Linked DNA regions of Homo sapiens: regions 2 and 3 are each linked to region 1. Evidence: fine-mapped expression QTL. A gene starts in region 1. Each other region holds a variant in brackets. All regions are shown on one strand. Distances are from middle to middle. Region 1 holds the start of PPP2R2C (protein phosphatase 2 regulatory subunit Bgamma). Region 2 overlaps PPP2R2C (protein phosphatase 2 regulatory subunit Bgamma). Region 3 has its middle 21 kb from the start of PPP2R2C.

The links. PIP is the estimated chance that this variant, and not a neighbour inherited with it, causes the effect.
Region 2: its variant is fine-mapped to the expression of PPP2R2C in left ventricle (GTEx, PIP above 0.99).
Region 3: its variant is fine-mapped to the expression of PPP2R2C in esophagus muscle (GTEx, PIP above 0.99). The same link has a PIP of 0.9 or more in unexposed skin.

The regions. Positions count from the first base shown.
Region 1 is chr4:6,469,364-6,474,687 of GRCh38, reverse strand. PPP2R2C (protein phosphatase 2 regulatory subunit Bgamma) reads left to right here and starts at 2,074. Exons shown (of 9, transcript NM_020416.4): 1 at 2,074-2,528. The coding sequence starts at 2,459. RefSeq lists an enhancer at 3,765-4,595.
Region 2 is chr4:6,444,839-6,450,162 of GRCh38, reverse strand. All of the region lies in intron 1 of PPP2R2C (protein phosphatase 2 regulatory subunit Bgamma), which reads left to right. Among named protein-coding and RNA genes, the nearest start is that of PPP2R2C, 25 kb to the left of the region's middle. The variant C/G (reference allele first, on the strand shown) is at 2,204.
Region 3 is chr4:6,491,112-6,496,111 of GRCh38, reverse strand. It overlaps a transcript of PPP2R2C not described here. Among named protein-coding and RNA genes, the nearest start is that of PPP2R2C, 21 kb to the right of the region's middle. The variant T/C (reference allele first, on the strand shown) is at 2,141.

The DNA of each region.
Region 1 (5,324 bases):
GGCCCAGTCAGGTTGGAAAGACCACCCACTGCAGGGTCCCCAGCATGGCTCAGAAGCTGATGAAAGGGATGATGTACTGTGTCAGGCCAGAGTGGGGCTGTTTTCATTGTAGTCCAGGACATCCCGGGAGATGAGGCTGATGCCAGCATAGGGTGGGTGTTTTGGCAGGATTGACAGATAGGGAGAGGGGACTTCTCCATGATCAGAGAGGGAGGCTGAGGAACATGCGGGAGGGTGGGCCTCAGCATGATAACAAGAGAGCTCCCAGGAGGCCTGACCCCTGCTGAGCAGGACTGGCCACCCCAACCCAGTGGGGCCACTCCTGCCATCACATCCACTTTACAGATGAGGTTGTGCCTGGGCCCCCTTGTGGTCAGGACTTGAACCCAGCCTGTCTTTCTCCCAGCATAGCCATTTTGCTGGCTCCAGCTAGAGAGGTGAGGGGGTGTGGACAGAGAGTGGGGGGCTGGCCTTAGGATGTGAGGTGGGGGGCATGTGAGCAGACAGGTGAGAGAGAGAGAGGAGAACATGCCAGGTGGGTGGGGGCCAATGTGGGTGTCGGTCACTTTCCTACGGGGTAGAAAGTGACAAAGAACAAGCACATCCTTCCGGCCCTTGCATTTACCTGGTCCTTGAATGGAGTCTGCACAGCTGGGAGATTTTGGCTTGTTCCACAGTGAAAAGGTAGAGGCTGGAACAGGGCAGGGCACTTGCCAAAGCAGGTGCTGGCAGGGCCCCAGGGCCTCTCCCCAGGCCAGCCCTTGCATGACAGCCTGCAGAGTGCTGGTGGGGCTGCTGGGGGGCTTTCATCTCCTCATAGGTCCATTCTGGGGATTTCAAAGGCACGAAAGCTGTAGCTTCAAAAACTCCCTCTCAATCTCCAAGAAATCTGAGACGGCATCACCTTCCCTCGTCTTTCCCACAGCCCCAGTCTCCCTGCCCCCAACGCCTTTGGACTCTCCTACCTCCACTGCAGTTTGGGGAGCTGTCTGGAGTTCCCCCAGAACCATTTGAAACAAGTGGAGGCCATTACAGACCAGCCCCCACCTGGAGCATGGCTCCACTGATGCCTTAGACCCAAGAGCCCCTGCAGCTCTGGTCACCCCACTGCACTTACCCCTCCCAGGCAAGCCACAGAGTCCCTCGCTTTCCAGGAAGGCTCTGTTGAGCTCCTAGGGAGGGCTGATGGTTCCTCACCCACACCTCTGAATCCCCACTGGGGCTTGTGTCCCGTGCAGGGGACTGTGATTCATTAGGCGGTGGGTCACGGTGGAGGAGGTGGCAGCTTGGCAAAACAGGAGGCAAATATTTTTTGAGGGCCCACTATGTGCCAGGCTGATTACCAGAGGGAGGTTCCTGTTTGGCAGAGCCCTGGGTTTGGAGGGGAGGGAGGGAAGGGAGGAGGGGGACGCATTTTCCAGCCTGGTTTTGGAGGTACCTAGCTCTGTATTTCTTTAACTTTCTCACTCGTCAGGAGAGGTGGGCATGAGGAGAGATCTCAGAGCCCTGCCTGGGGGAGGCCCAATCACCCCTCCAGCCATTTCATCCAGTTTTGCCTTGTCGGCTGCTGGACCCCCTCCACCAGCTTCTTCACATGTACTTAATGCTCCCAACGGGCCCCAGAACTTGCGCGACCCACCCTCTTCTACTAATGAAGGGAGACAGTGTCCTTCCCCTCCCCCGAGTCCCCATTCTCCAGGTGCGCCCTCTTCAACTGCGACCCCACTCCTTCCTTCCTAGTCCTTTCTGCCTTCTGCCTGCGAGGCTGCTCTCCTCCTGCCCCCTTCCCAGCACCCCGGCTCTTGGCCTTCTCTCCCATAACTGGAGCACCTGGGCACCCAAGGTACCCTCCCCCCAAGCTCAGCTGATCACCCTCTCCCCGCAAGCTGGCGGTCTCCTTCCTCCCTCCCCCGTGGCGCACCCAGCACCAAGGTGCCCACCGCGAGGGCCCGAGCACGGCGGTGCAGCCTCGGCTTGGGCGCCGGCTCCACCTGCAGGGCCGCGGGGGCGGAGAGCGGGCGGCGCGAGGGAGGGGCCTGCGACAGCGGCGGCGGCGGCGGCCCCAGCCCGCGCAGCCCGGCTCGGCCCCGGCTTGGTCGGCGCAGCGCAGCGCCGCGCGCGTCCCCTCGCCGCCGTCGCCGCAGCCAGGCGCACCGGCACCAGGCCCCGCCGCCGGGCGCACGGACGCAGCGCGCACGGGCCGGCCGGGATGCGCGCCTGGGCCCCGGCCCGCCCGAACCCGCGGCCGCCGCCCGCCCACCGCGCGCTCGCTTGACCGCGGCGCCCGCCCCCGGCCGCCCCCGCCCGTCCCCCTGCCGCGATGCCCTCCCTTCGGGGCCCCGGCGGCCCGCGCCCCTGCTAGGCTGCGGCGGCATGGCCCGCGCGCCCGGCGCGACCTCTGCGGATTGCATCGGTGTGTGGCGGCGGGGCATGCCCAGAGCACCGGGCACGGCCTTCAATGGGCGAGGACACGGACACGCGGAAAATTAACCACAGCTTCCTGCGGGACCACAGCTATGTGACTGAAGGTAACGTACGTGTTGTCTGAGACCCCTCCGGCCGGCCGCGGCGTGGGGATGCCGTCGCACCGAATGCCCTCCGAAGGTTTGGACCGCGCGATGTGTGTCGTGTCCCCCCGCCCCACCCCACCCCACCCCATCCCACCCCACCCCACCCCATCCCATCCCACCCTGCCCGGGGCCCAGGAGGGAGGGAGCCCGAGGGTACCGGCCTCCGCTGCCCAGCGCCGGCACAGGGCAGCGCCCTCCTCCGCGCCGCCCTCCGGGAGGCAGCTTTCCTCTCCCAAGCCAGGTGGCATCCTGATTCGGCCCTGACCATAATTTTTTAAAAGGCCACGGCTGTGGCTAATCTGGTGAAGAAATCTCGGGGAAATTTAATGGTTTAAATCCTGGATTTGCCATTTCAGCCCTGCCCAAAGCCCGCAGAATTTTCTAGGCTGCCCTCTCCCTGGAGAAGAAGAGGGACCCGGGGGGAAAAAAACATAATCCATTGCCAGATCCTCCTGGGAGGCCCGCCTGCCCGGGCCCCTCCCTGTCCTCCAGAGGCAGGGTCCCTGAGTGGGAGGGAGAAGGCGGCTGGTTTGGGGCTGGCCTTTTTATTCCTGGTGAGTTATATTGAGACAGGAGCAGCTGGGCTAACTGTCGGGATTTTCCAAAAAAGTGGGACATGCCATCCCAAACAGGCCCTGTTTAAAATCCCCTAAGTTGGCCCTACAAGCCCAACCCCCACCCCCACCCTACCCCCGAGGCTGGTGGGTCAGCGCCCCTCTCTTACAGGCCTGGAACTTCCGGGGGCCCCCTGGTCTGCCTCGCTAGGGGAACAGTGGGGACAGCTTCCGTGCGCAGGCAGGGCCCGCGGAGTGACCCCGATGGAGGATGGGGACCGGGAGGTCTGGGCTCGGGGCCGCCTGTGCTGGAGCCCTGCCCGAGTGCGGGGACTGTCAGCCGCTAACCCACGGGCTGGCGGCCCGGCCGCAGAAGTGTGCGCGGATTCCCCGGGTGGGTGCCCCAGTGGGAGGGGCCCTGGGCACGGGTCCCGCGGGGCAGGTGCGCGTGGGTGCCTGTGTCAGGGAGACCGAGTGGGCCAGGCGGCGGAGACCGGGCTCCTGCGGCTGGGTCCGCCTCCTCGAAGCCTGGCTCTGCCGGAAATGAGGCCGAGCGGAGCCGGAGCCCCGCGGAGGCCCGGGGAGCGCAGCGCGAGCGCGGGCGCGGGCGGGCTCGGGGCGCCCTGGCCCGGGAGGCAGAGGCTGGGCGTGGGACCTGGGCGGAGGGAGGCTGCGGGGGCCGCGCCCGCTCCCGGCGGGAGAACCGCTGAGTCACGCACGCTTCGCCGCCGGGTGTGTGCGAGAGAGGGGCAGGGCTGCCCGGGCCTCCGGGCCGGTGGGGCTCTGACCCGGCCGCGGCTTTGGGAGGCCCGGGGAGCTGAGAGCGGTCCTTTGTCGCCTGCTTCGGCGAGGCTGAGTCGGGATCAGCGTGGGTCCGGGATGTGGTTTCTGCTCGCAGCCTGCAGCGACAGAGGGTTGGAGGAAGCCGCCGGGTTGCTGGCCCGTGCCTCGGTGGCCTGGCTCGGGCCGAGAGCGGATCTTGGCAGGTTGCCCCGCTGCTCCCAGGCTCGCTGTGGTCTGGCTTCCTGGAGCAAGCCTCTGTTTGCTCATCTCTACGTTGGGGATGACGGTGGGATGGGGCGCAGGGCTCGTTGTGGGACCAGGCGTAAAAAGCGCCATGGTGGACATTTTCAAACATTAATTCCCTCTGCACCCTGCCCGTCCCCTTTTCTTTCATAAATTCACCAGCCCTCAGCAGGGCACAGGAACGGGGACGGCACAGTTCTGGAGGTCAGAGCAGTGCTATCCAATCCTTCATCCAGACACGAGATATTTACCGAGCACCTGCTGCATGCCGGGCACTGTTTTATCCCTGGGGACTGGACAAAGACTCCCTGCCCTTGTGCGGCCTGAATTCTATCAGGGAGCTATATGACCTTGAGGTCTGTCTTCTCACCAGGGCTCAGTCTCCCCATCTGTAAAATGGGAGTGAATCCTGCCTACAGGGTCTGGAGGTTTCTGTGAGGAGCAGGTGCAACGGTGTTGAAGGAGCCGTTCAGAGCTATGCATTGCTAACGTGCAGCCAAAGGATGCTGAGCACCTGCTGTGTGCTGGGACCTCATACGAAGGCTCACCTACGCCTTATCCCCACCTTGAGATGAACAAACCAAGGCCTGGCCTTGTGCCTGGTCCAGACCGAGTGCCAGTGTGTGCAGGGCATAGGGCTCAGGTGCTGCGGATGCAGAGAGCAGGATCGGAACAAGAAACAATAATAATCATTATAATAGGTAGAATTCTGGCCTCCCTAATGAAAAACACACTTTCACACTGTTGCATCCTGACTATATTTCATGCTCAGAGCACAGGGAAGGTCACAGATTTGAATGTCAGAATGTCAGACTTGAATCATGTTAAAGTCCTGCCTCTGACTCCTGACTGCTGTGCAGCCTTGGACAAGTTACTACACCTTCCTGAGCTTCACTTTCCCTTTGTAAAGGGAGAAATAATAACGACCTTTCATACAGGGTTGCTGGGATGATCAGTGATTTTGCTAATATCAAAAGTGCCCAGCACAGTGCTTGGGTTGTTGGAGGCATTGAACACATGGCATTGTTATTATTTATATGCCTTGTAACTGGAAGAGCCTGTGGGCAAACAGTGGATGCTAAAATTCAGTTTGCGGAAGAACCAGGTGCACAAACTCCTGTTCTACCTGTGGTTGAGTCTACACTCCCCCACCACACCCCAGCTGCTCTGATCT
Region 2 (5,324 bases), 25 kb after region 1:
GCCGGCAGGGATGCTGGAATTGGGATTTGGCCCCAGCCTTGTCTGACTCCAAAGCCAATGCTATTTCCACCATACCCAGTGTCTCCCAGAGCTAATTTTGCGGCTGGAACTGCAACCCGCAAAGCTATCTAGGACAGGCAACTCGATGAAAGAGAATTAGGAGGGAATCCTAGAAAAATGGGGCTCGGCAGCTCCCGGGGAAGCCTGGAGAGGAGGTGGCGCCGAAGCCTCTGCCAGCAGATTGGGGTGGGGCTGTTTTCAGTCCTCTCTGGCGAGGTGTTTTGAAGCCTCCTCTGGGAACCGTGTGCCTCTGTCCAGGACTGGCTGTCTCTCTGGAAATCATACCCTGGCAGCATTTGGCTTTGGGTGAAAGGAGAAGAGAAGATTCTGGCCATTCAGAGCAGGCCCTTGTGCGGGATGGAACCCATTTTCCAGAACTCTTGGGACAGGGACCAGGGTGGCAGGCAGGGGCCCGTGGACTGCCTGGGGGACCTGGTGCTTGGGGACTTAGAGATTTGTTTTCCTGCTGAATATATTGCTTTCTCGTGCCTGCTTTGTGCAACCACGTGAGGATGTGGGGGTGAGGATGGCCGACAGGACACGGGAGTCCCTCCCGACAGGGGCCAGGCGGCGGCGGGGGTCCGCATGTCTCACGTCAGCATGGCTCTGTGTTTTCACTCCTCTCCAGCACATATTTAGTGGAAATGAACTCATTTTATTATTAAAAATTAAAGTCATGCATTCATAGGGTAAACAAGATTGAGAGCATGTGGAGGTGCACTGTGAAAGTGCAGTTCTCTCGGAATGGGCACTTAGAGACGCGCCTGTTCTCTGCAGCTGCCGCAGGGGTCTCATCTTGTTGGGACAGAACACGGTTGATTCATGCAATTGGCTGTTGATCAACATCAGGTTGTGTCTAGTTTTGTTTTTTTCCCGTTTCGCACGGTGCTGCGAATTCACAGCTGTGCCAGTGTATCTGAAGGTAAATCCCACGAGTGGGCCTTGGAGAGTCAGAGGATGGGGCCTTCTACGTGGACTTGGTGTGGTTGGGTGTGTGATGCCTGCGTGGGGCTATGTGTTTTTAGCCCTTCCTTCTGACAGGTTCTGGAGGCCTCCTCTGTGCCTGCCAGCCATGCAGCCGCTGAGCCGAGCATCACCCAAGGCTTGCCTGAACCTGGCCTGGGTCCCAAAGGAACACTGCTCTGGGGCATGGAGGTTGGCTGGTTGAGAACTAAAGCCACATCAGCAGGGGCACTGCCCCCACCTGCTGGGGTCAGCCCCCGCCCGGAGTTCAGCAGGACCTCCGTGAGCCTTCGTGCAGGTGGCTCATTGCAGCACGTCCCCTTGGGGTGGTGGCCATTGGCTTGTGGTTCCTTTGCTCACTGGGGGGAGGAGGACAGCCAGGCACAGGTGAAAGGGGCTTGCGGGTGACGATTCTAGTCCTTGGCCCGGGGAATGTCCCTGGGCTTCTGAGGCCTCACCTCCCTGGGTAGTCAGGAGGGTTACGAGGGTGGGGCCTGGCCCTGGGGACTCCAGGGTGTGGCAGCAGTGGGAGTGAGGAAACAGCCCTGAGACGGAGGGAGAGAAGGGCGATCCAGATGGCGGTGGCCTCCTCACCCCTCGGCCAGTGATGCATGGTAGTGGTTTTGACGGGCTGACCTCGAGGGTCTGCCTGGGAGCCGCTTGGAACTCTCTGGAGGTGGGGCCGGCCCTGGTGGGGGCAGGAAGGTCCCAGAGCAGCTTGTTAAGTGGGCTGAGGACAAGTGTCAGGAGACCTGGGTCTGGATCCCGCTCCAATACCCCTCTCCGTGTGACCTCCAAGGGATCCACCTGCCTTGGCCTCTCAAAGTGCTGGGATTACAGGTGTGAGCCACTGTGCCCAGCCTGTGCCCAGTGTACCCATCAGTAAAGCAGGGATCAAACAGTTCTTAAATCCTGCAGCGGTGGTGAGAGCCACCTGAGGAAACGATGCAAAGGGCTTTGACGGAGTCTGGCACAGAGAACGCACCCAATAAATGACTGCCGTGACGATCTTTCTTCTCGCCCTCAGGTGGTCTCTGGAAGCTCCTCTGTGCGGGGTTTTCTCATTTGCCAGCTGTGCATCCCCCGGTCGTAGTGCGGCTCCCACGGGGGTGTACCAGGAGCCTCTGCTCCTCCTATGCTTCCTGAAAAAGGGCCCAGAGAATATTTCCATCAGGAATAA[C/G]TGAGTGAATCCCAGAAACTTCCTATCACATTTAGGGTGATTAGGCAGATGCATACGATTCTCACTGTGGGAAAGGAGCTGGCGACCTCGATGGGTTGTGGTTCCCGCAGGGATGTGCTTGCGCTGCTGTTACTCCAGCCGTAGCTGAGGCACGGGAGAAAACGGAGACCCCGAGAAGTTCAGAGGCTTGTGCAGGTCACGCTGTTCCTACGAGGTAGACCCTGACTTTGACCCCAGGCTGTGTCCCTGCCAAGCTTGGAGCCTCTTTCTCAAAAGGGCGACGGAAGGATGTTGTTACAGATGTGGTTGCCAGTTTCCTCCTTTTCATTAAATCACCAGGGAAATGGTCTCTTGCAACCCCCCTAAAGCAGGGGGAAGGAGGAGGACAAAGGTCAGGTCACCATCTTTGCTGGCATGTGAGTGGGGTGGGGGTGGGGGTGGGGAGCTAGGAGACCTGGCGCTGGGCCCTTGAAATATCCACATTTCCACAACATTCTGGGTGTCAGTGAGCCCCTGCCTTCCTCCCTCACATTTATCCGGAGCTCTTCCTCCGCAGGGAAGAACAACAGCCCGAGATGGGGTTATTTCAAGGGGATTTCCATGGAAACGGGAGGGTGGGAGGTTCCTCCCAGCACTTGTATAATGGGAGTTGGCTGAGGTGGCAGCGTGTCCCCACGGAAGGGTGCGAGGGACCTTCTCTGCACCGCAGGCCTCCTCAGAGTGGGAGGCACCGACCCGAGAGTGGCTGGCTCCCCTTTCATGCTCCCACCCTCTCTACCCAGCTCAAGACCCCGGGGCTCCTTGGTGAGAGTGAGAGCCAGGCCAGCTCCCCAGGGACCCCCAAGGCCTGGTCCTTCCCATGGTCTCTTTTCTCTAGCAGGTCTTTGTCTTGGGCTGCTGCCAGCCACAGCTTCCTGGCAGGACCTCCTGGCAGGACCTCTGTGCTTTGAGCCGCTGTTGCTCTGCCAAGACCTTGCCCCGCACCGTGGTCTGAATCAGCCCAGCACCCCTTCGCCTCTGTTGCAGTGCTCACATTTATCCCTCACTCCTCCATCCAGCATGTTTTGTTTTTTTTTTTTTACAAGCAGACACTTTGCTTTATAAAAGAATTCTGCTGTGAGCTGCCGTATCCTCTCTGAGCCTCCCTTTTGTCATCTGCTGAATGGTAACAGCAGCGCCTGCCATGCCTGCTTGGTGAGGATTCCATCAAGCAGGGAGACAGTGGGCCGTTGGCGGGGAGTCTGAGCAGGTGTACCAGTATTTCCAGTCAGCTGATGGCTGATGGACATGTTCTTGGAGGCAGGGAACTCGGAGGCCTGCAGACGTGCCCCAGGATGACAAGATTCATCAGTTCCTACAAGCCCTGCCTGGGCCTCATGCTTTTCAGTGTGTCCTGGGCTTTCCCGTGTGAAATCTTACCTGATTTTTATGCCACCTTGAGAAGAGTGATATTCATCTCCGTTGTACAGATGAGGAAACTGAGGCTCAGGGAGGCAACGTGATCTTTGCAAGGATCCGTCTGTTCCCCCCGTGGCCTGGCTGCCCCTCCTGGCAGTGCAGGTGGAGTTAAAACCATACAGGAGTTAAAATGAGCCTCGATGGGGGTGGGAAGCTACGACTGGAAAACGTCCGATGCTCTCCCAAGTCAAATTGTGCTTGGTGTCTGTGGGTGTGTCGGTGTGGGGGAGGGAAGCTCAGCCCTTTTGAAAAGTGGGGGGTGGTTTGACGACGCTGCAGGGGCAGCTCCGAGTTCTAGAGTCTCAGAACGTGGTTCTAGGCGGTTCATGTGGATCAAGTGCTGTTCTGAGCACTTTAATATCCAGCGTGACCATAAGGATAAGTGCCACTGTTACTGGCTTTTTCACAGATGAGGAAACTGAGGCACAGAGGGATTAGGTAAAGTGACTGGAGTCACTCAGCCAGGATGTGAATCACAGCCCACACCCATGTGCACCAGGAAGCCTTGGCTTTCAGGGTCCTTGGAGGGTGTGCCGGGCAGTCGCCTAAGCTGGGAAACCTTGGGCTTGTCTCCAGGCCATGTGGCCATGTGAGATAGGAGTCCTCCTGTGTTATGTTCTGCGACACTGTGGGCAGAGGGCTGAGGACCCCAGCCCTCCCTTAGAACATCATGTTGGTGTGAGACATTTAGAGCCAGGCCTCCCTGCTTAGAAAGCACCTCTTGGGTCACTTGCATTAGTGAAGTTATACATTTGAAACTCCATTTATTTATTTATTTATTTAGAGACAGGGTCTCTCCTTGTCACCCAGACTAGAGTACCGTGGTGCCATCATAGCTCACTGCAGCCTCAAACTCCTAGACTCAAGTGATCCCCCTGCCGGGGCCTCCCAGAGTGCTGGCATTACAGGCATGGGCCACAGCACCTGGCTGAAACTCCCTTTTCATGAAAAGAAACAGCTTCAACTTTGCAATCTCATCTGTCTGTCTATGAGGCTGTGCCTTTGTGTGAGATGAGAGCAGTCACTGTCACTTGCTCTTTGAATATTTGATTAACAGGTAAACAGCCTGAAATCCATTTGACATCTTATCCTTTTGCAAACTTGGCTAAATTCTCTTAAATTGGTTCCAGTTGGATTAATTAAATGCATGGTTGCTTATACATGTGTGTGGAAATGATTCTGGCAGGTCATGTCTTAGCTAGATAGTGAACATAAGCGTCTAGAATATTCTCAGCTGTTGCAGAGACTGCCAGGAATGACCTTGAAAAAGTTTGGGAGAGGGTTTTTTTTTTTGTTTTTATTTTGCTTTTGTTGAGACAGGGTCTCACTCTGTCACCTAGGCTGGAGTGCAGTGATGTGATCTCAGCTCACTGTAACCTCTGCCTCCCAGGCTCAAGCGGTCCTCCTGCCTCAGCCTCCCGAGTAGCTGGGACTACAGGCAGGCACCAACATACCCGGCTAATTTTTGTATTTTTTTTTTGTAGAGTTGGGGTCTCACCATGTTGCCCAGACTGATCTGGAACCCCTAGGCTGAAGGGATCCACCTGCCTTGGCCTCTCAAAGTGCTGGGATTATAGGCGTGAGCCACTGTGCCCAGGCTGGAGAGGTTTTTGGATGCACTGGGCCATGGATGTGAAGGTGAACACATGGAAACGATCCCTGC
Region 3 (5,000 bases), 22 kb before region 1:
GGTAACTGGTCCTAAATCCCATGACTGGTGTTCTCATAAGAGAAAAGAGAGGGGGGTTAGGGAGATACAGAGGAGGAGGCAGAGACTGGGGTGATGTGTTCACAAGCCAAGGGGCACCAAGGAGTGCCGCCATGGAGAGCCGGGAGGGGGCCCTGGGACAGAGTCTCCCTGAAGCTTCTGGAAGGCACTGGCCCTGCCAACATTTTGATTTTAGCCCTCTAAGATGCATCCAGAACTGTGAGAGGACATGTTTCTGTTGTTTTAAGCCACAGACTTTGTGGTAATTTATAATGGCAGCCTGGGAACTCATACACCACGCAAAAGTTATCCAGCAGGAGAAACTCGGAAGGGCCAGCCGAAGAGCCTCCTCTCCCTCCCGGCAGCAGTTCTGTTTCAAAGCGCCTTGGCATCTTTTAGCTGATTTTCACCACATCCCCTGGAGGAAGGCTCAGTGACCTACTATCTCCATTTCCAGGTGGAGAAAGTATCCTCACCTCACTGTCACCCTCGTGCAATGTTGCTTTCTCTTGGAATCACTGCCAGAGCATGGGATGAACCCAGACCTGATCCCGTGCCTGTTCCCTCACCAGGAGGACATAGAGTGTGGGGGCGGGCAGGGACATGGCTCATCCCAGGTGGGATCCGGCAGCTGTCACACTCATCCCCAGGTTGCGAGCCCCTCTGCATGCCAGGTACTGTGCCAGGCACCGGTGATCTGGGAGTGCCCGGGACACTGTTTTCGTGGGTGCTGGTCTGCATGGGCCCCAGGCCTGCCCCAGCTGCTGTGTTCTGGGGCCAACTGTCCTTCCAGCCTCCTCGATAGCCATATGGCATTCCCTGTGCCGACGATGGCTTGATGTCACTTGGGTGGACCCAGGTGTGGCAGACATGCGAGTGGCAGAGTGGACCAGGCTGTGTGGCCCTGATACTCACCCCACACTGTGGCTCTCAGCCTGAGGACTTCATGCTGGCTGTGGAGGCCACGTAGCCCCTTGGCAGGGCAGGCTGGATGGGTAGGAGAGGCAGGGCCCTCAGCTGTGGGATGGGGTGTTGGCAGGCTGTGCCCACCAGCTTGTTGGCCTCCCCAAGTTGCTCTTCCTCCAGCAACCTCGCTGCGTGGACAGCTTCCCCTGTCACAGGGACAGCAGAGTCCTCCCAACAGTATGTTCCTGGGCCAGGCCACCACCATCCTGGTCTCAGGGCAGCCTCTGGACAGGGCAGCCAGGAGAGTTCTCTGAATAAAACCCTTTTACTCAGGTTTCCCCTTGCTTCCACCCTGGCAGCAGCAGCTGGGTGCAGTTGCATGAGCGTTGGCCCCAGGCTCTCCAGCCACACTCCAGGAAGGGCCAAGTATGGCCTTCTCCCTTCCCATGCATCCCTGACCTGTGTCCCAGGATGCCTGTCTGCCCTGCTCCCAGCTGATGCCTCCCTGTGCCCGGGGCTCCCACCTGGACGGCGTGCCGCGTGTGCTTGGTGCCCTGGGTGCTTGCTGGCCTCCACCTGGGCTGTGAGTGTCTGAGTTAGGGGCTGGGTTTGTGTCACTCCCTCTTGTATTCTGGGCATCTGGCACCCGTGTGGTCCAGGTGGCCCTCCGTCTCGGAGACCAGTGCTTCGGTGTTACATTCAGCTCCTTGCCCCAGTAGGATGCAAGCTCTTTGAGGGCAAGGCCTGGCATGCGGGAGGTGCTGTGTTCCTGTCTGTTGAATAAGTGAATGAATGATTGAATGTGTTAGAGGGTCCAATGTGGGGAGAGTGAGGGATTCCCCTGGACACCCCGGGGAGGGCCTTCACACCCATATTAACCCACCCAGCGGACCAGGTTGACGGCGATTTGGGGACCTATGGTAAGGAACCAGGATCTCCTGCGTCCCCTGTGTTTCTAGATACTGCAGGGCTGGTATGGGCCCCCTGGCTGTAGGGCTGAGACGGAGGCATTCAGGCTAGACCAATGGGTCCTGCCCCAGCCGTGTCAGCAGAGCCTGCCTGATCCTGTCCCTGGGTGTTGGCCAGAGTGCCAAGAAAGCACAAAAGACTCAGGCGGAAAAATCAGACAGACCCTAAGGTGGTTTAAAAAATGTGCAAACCCAGGTACGCTGCAGGCTCGAAGCTGGGTGTAGCCGAGGCGTGGGGCAAATGAGCA[T/C]GTTTGGATTAAAAAAGGCCAACGCATCTAACAGCCAGGAAGGTTTGCTTTAACATTCCAGCATGTTCTGTTGATTTATGGCTGTTGCTAGGTAACAGAATACACCGAGGCTGTGTGATTTTAAAGCTACGGCTCCCGACTAAAGAGTCGACAGAAAGAGAAAACCATTAATCAGGGTGGGGGCTGGGCGTGGATTTAAATGCAAACCAGAAGACAGGGAACTGTTGGGAGCAATGAGGGCGAAGCCAGGTCCACCCCTCCGTGTCTGCCGTCCTTCAAGGGTGTGTTCCGCTGCGGGTGTGGAGAGCTGGCTACAGACACGGGCTTCTCCTTCAGGAAGGCACTGGCATAAATTTATCTTTCATTTTGCACTAGATCGATCTAGTATGTGTCAGATTTCTAACACAGCACTGTTAGTGTACCAGATGTACGGAGTGTGTCATCTTGATGGGCAGGATGCATTGTGCCATTTTTATGTTGCACACAACTCCCACCTCTCCCCAGCACCATGCCTTTGCTAAGCTGTGCTGCTACCTCCTGTGTGGCCTGCTTGGGATAGGACAGTGAAAAAGACAGAAGCCCCCAGACTCTCCTCCATGTCCACACGCCCCCCACCCCAGCTCCCTGAAGCTGACATTCTGATTGAGGGAGACAGACAATAGTCCTGATAAACAACGAATTTTAAAGCAAAGCCCAGAAAGGGGGACCAGGAGGGGTGTGTGTATGTGCGCGCGCGTGCGTGTGTGCTTGTGTGTGGGTGGGTGGATGGCAGGCGTGCTGGTTGCAATTGCAGGTAGGGGGAACCTGGTTGGCCTCATTAGGAAGGTGACATTTGAGTCAAGTCTTGTGCAAAGTGAGGGGCCGAGGCTTGCAGGTATCTGAGGGAAGAATGGCCCAGGGGAGGAAATAGCAGATGCAAAGTCCCCGAGGCAGGGTATGCATGTTGAGCTGGAGGAACAGCTGGGAGGTTGGTGTGTTGGAATGGAGTGAGGAGGGAGACTGGGGAGGGGAAGCAGATCCTATAGGGTCCCCAGGCCACTGGGAGGACATCATTGTCTTGGCAGGTCAGAATCCTAACCCTGAAGTTCAGTCCCATACCTGGGGCCCATGCCTTTGACAGGCCTCCCTCCTGCCAAAGGCTGGCTTGCTCCTTTTGGAGCGGTATGCACCTGTGTCATTGCTGTGTGTTCTCCAAACCCCAGGTCTCCTCTCTGTGGTGTCTCTTAGTTTGCATTCCATGAAAGTAGTGCCTGAGCCTGGCATGTGGGTGCAGGCAGTTTATTTGGGATGAGATCCTAGGGCACATCATTCGAGTCCCTGCTGTAGGGATGAGGGCTCCAGTCTACTGAGAATTATACAGAGGGCTCCAGAACTGATCTCTAAAAAACAGCAGTAGTTCTCCAGGGATTATCAGTTCAGATGGGTGGGGGGTTGGCGTGGGGCCACTGACTTTCACTCACACTTGAGCATGCGCTCCAGGCCCAGTGGTGTGGGCAGAGGCCTTGGAGTGGAATGCAGAAAGACGCCAGAGCACTCGGGGGGAGGCTCTTATAGCATCCCCTACCCCATCAAGTCTTCAGCACCACGACCCTGGACAGGCTGAAGACCAGACCTCCCTGTCTGTGGGGTTGGCCATGGGTAGGCAGGGGCCCCGGCTGACCCTGTTGGAGTCCATCCTGGGTTTTTGGATTGCAGTGGGTGGTGATACCTTCTCTGGCTCTGGCCAAGGCACTGTGGGACATGTCCTTGGAGCTGCTACTGGCTGTGTCCACCCCATGAGAGAAACAGAGAGGAGAGGCAGAGAGGGTCCCATGGAGTTTAAGCCCCAGGGCCCACTGTCAGGGCCTGGAATTGTGTCCCCTTTTTTGCTAAGCTAATTTAGGCTGGCTTTTTGTCACTTGCAATCAGAGGATCCTGATTAAGCCTCCTTATTGTCCCTGGTGTTACCGGTCCCTGGAGGACAGTAGTTTACTCAGGCCCTGCAGCAGAGCCAGTGGATGGAGCCCGGCTGTATTAGTCTGTTCTCGCATTGCTATAAGGAACTACCTGAGACTGGGTAATTTATTAAGAAAATAGGTTTAATTGACTCACAATTCTGCAGGCTGTACAGGAAATATGGGTAGTAAGCTTCCCTCAGGAAGCTTATAATCGTGGCAGAAAGCCAAGGGGAAGTAGGCACATATTCACATGGCCAGCAGGAGAGAGAGAGAGAAGGGGGAAGTGCCGTATGCCTCTAAACAACCAGATCTCATGAGAACTCACTCAGCATCACCAGAACAGCAAGGGAGAAGTCTGCCCGCATGATCCAATCACTTCCCACCAGGCCCCTCCTCCAACATTGAGGATTGCAATTTGACATGAGACTTGGGTGGGGACATAGAGCCAACTTATATCACTGGCCCAGTTCCAGCCTGGCCCCCTCCAGAGACCTGCCCCATGATGGCCTGGCCTTGCCACCCTCCTGTTTGAACCAATCATCACTTCTTTGGTTCTCAAGGCCTTGTGGGTTCTGATAGCCCCACTGGACTCAACCCTCTGGTTCCCCAAGGGAATACCTGGACTGGTTCCACCACCCTACATGGCCCCCTGGCTTGGCCCACCATGACATACCCCAGTAGCCTGCCCCATCTTCCATGCAGAAGCTCATTGGCCAGCCTGTGCCACCATCATGCAGGAGGCACAGAGATGTTGGGGAGGGGCAGGATGAGGGGCTGACCACCTGAGCCACTTACTGGCCTCCTTGATCATCCATTCATCCACAAATTCACCCAACAATACAAATTCCTGCCACACACCAGGCACTAGGGTACACAACACAGTGAGCAAAACAGGCAAAAATCCCTGTCCACAGAGATGACAT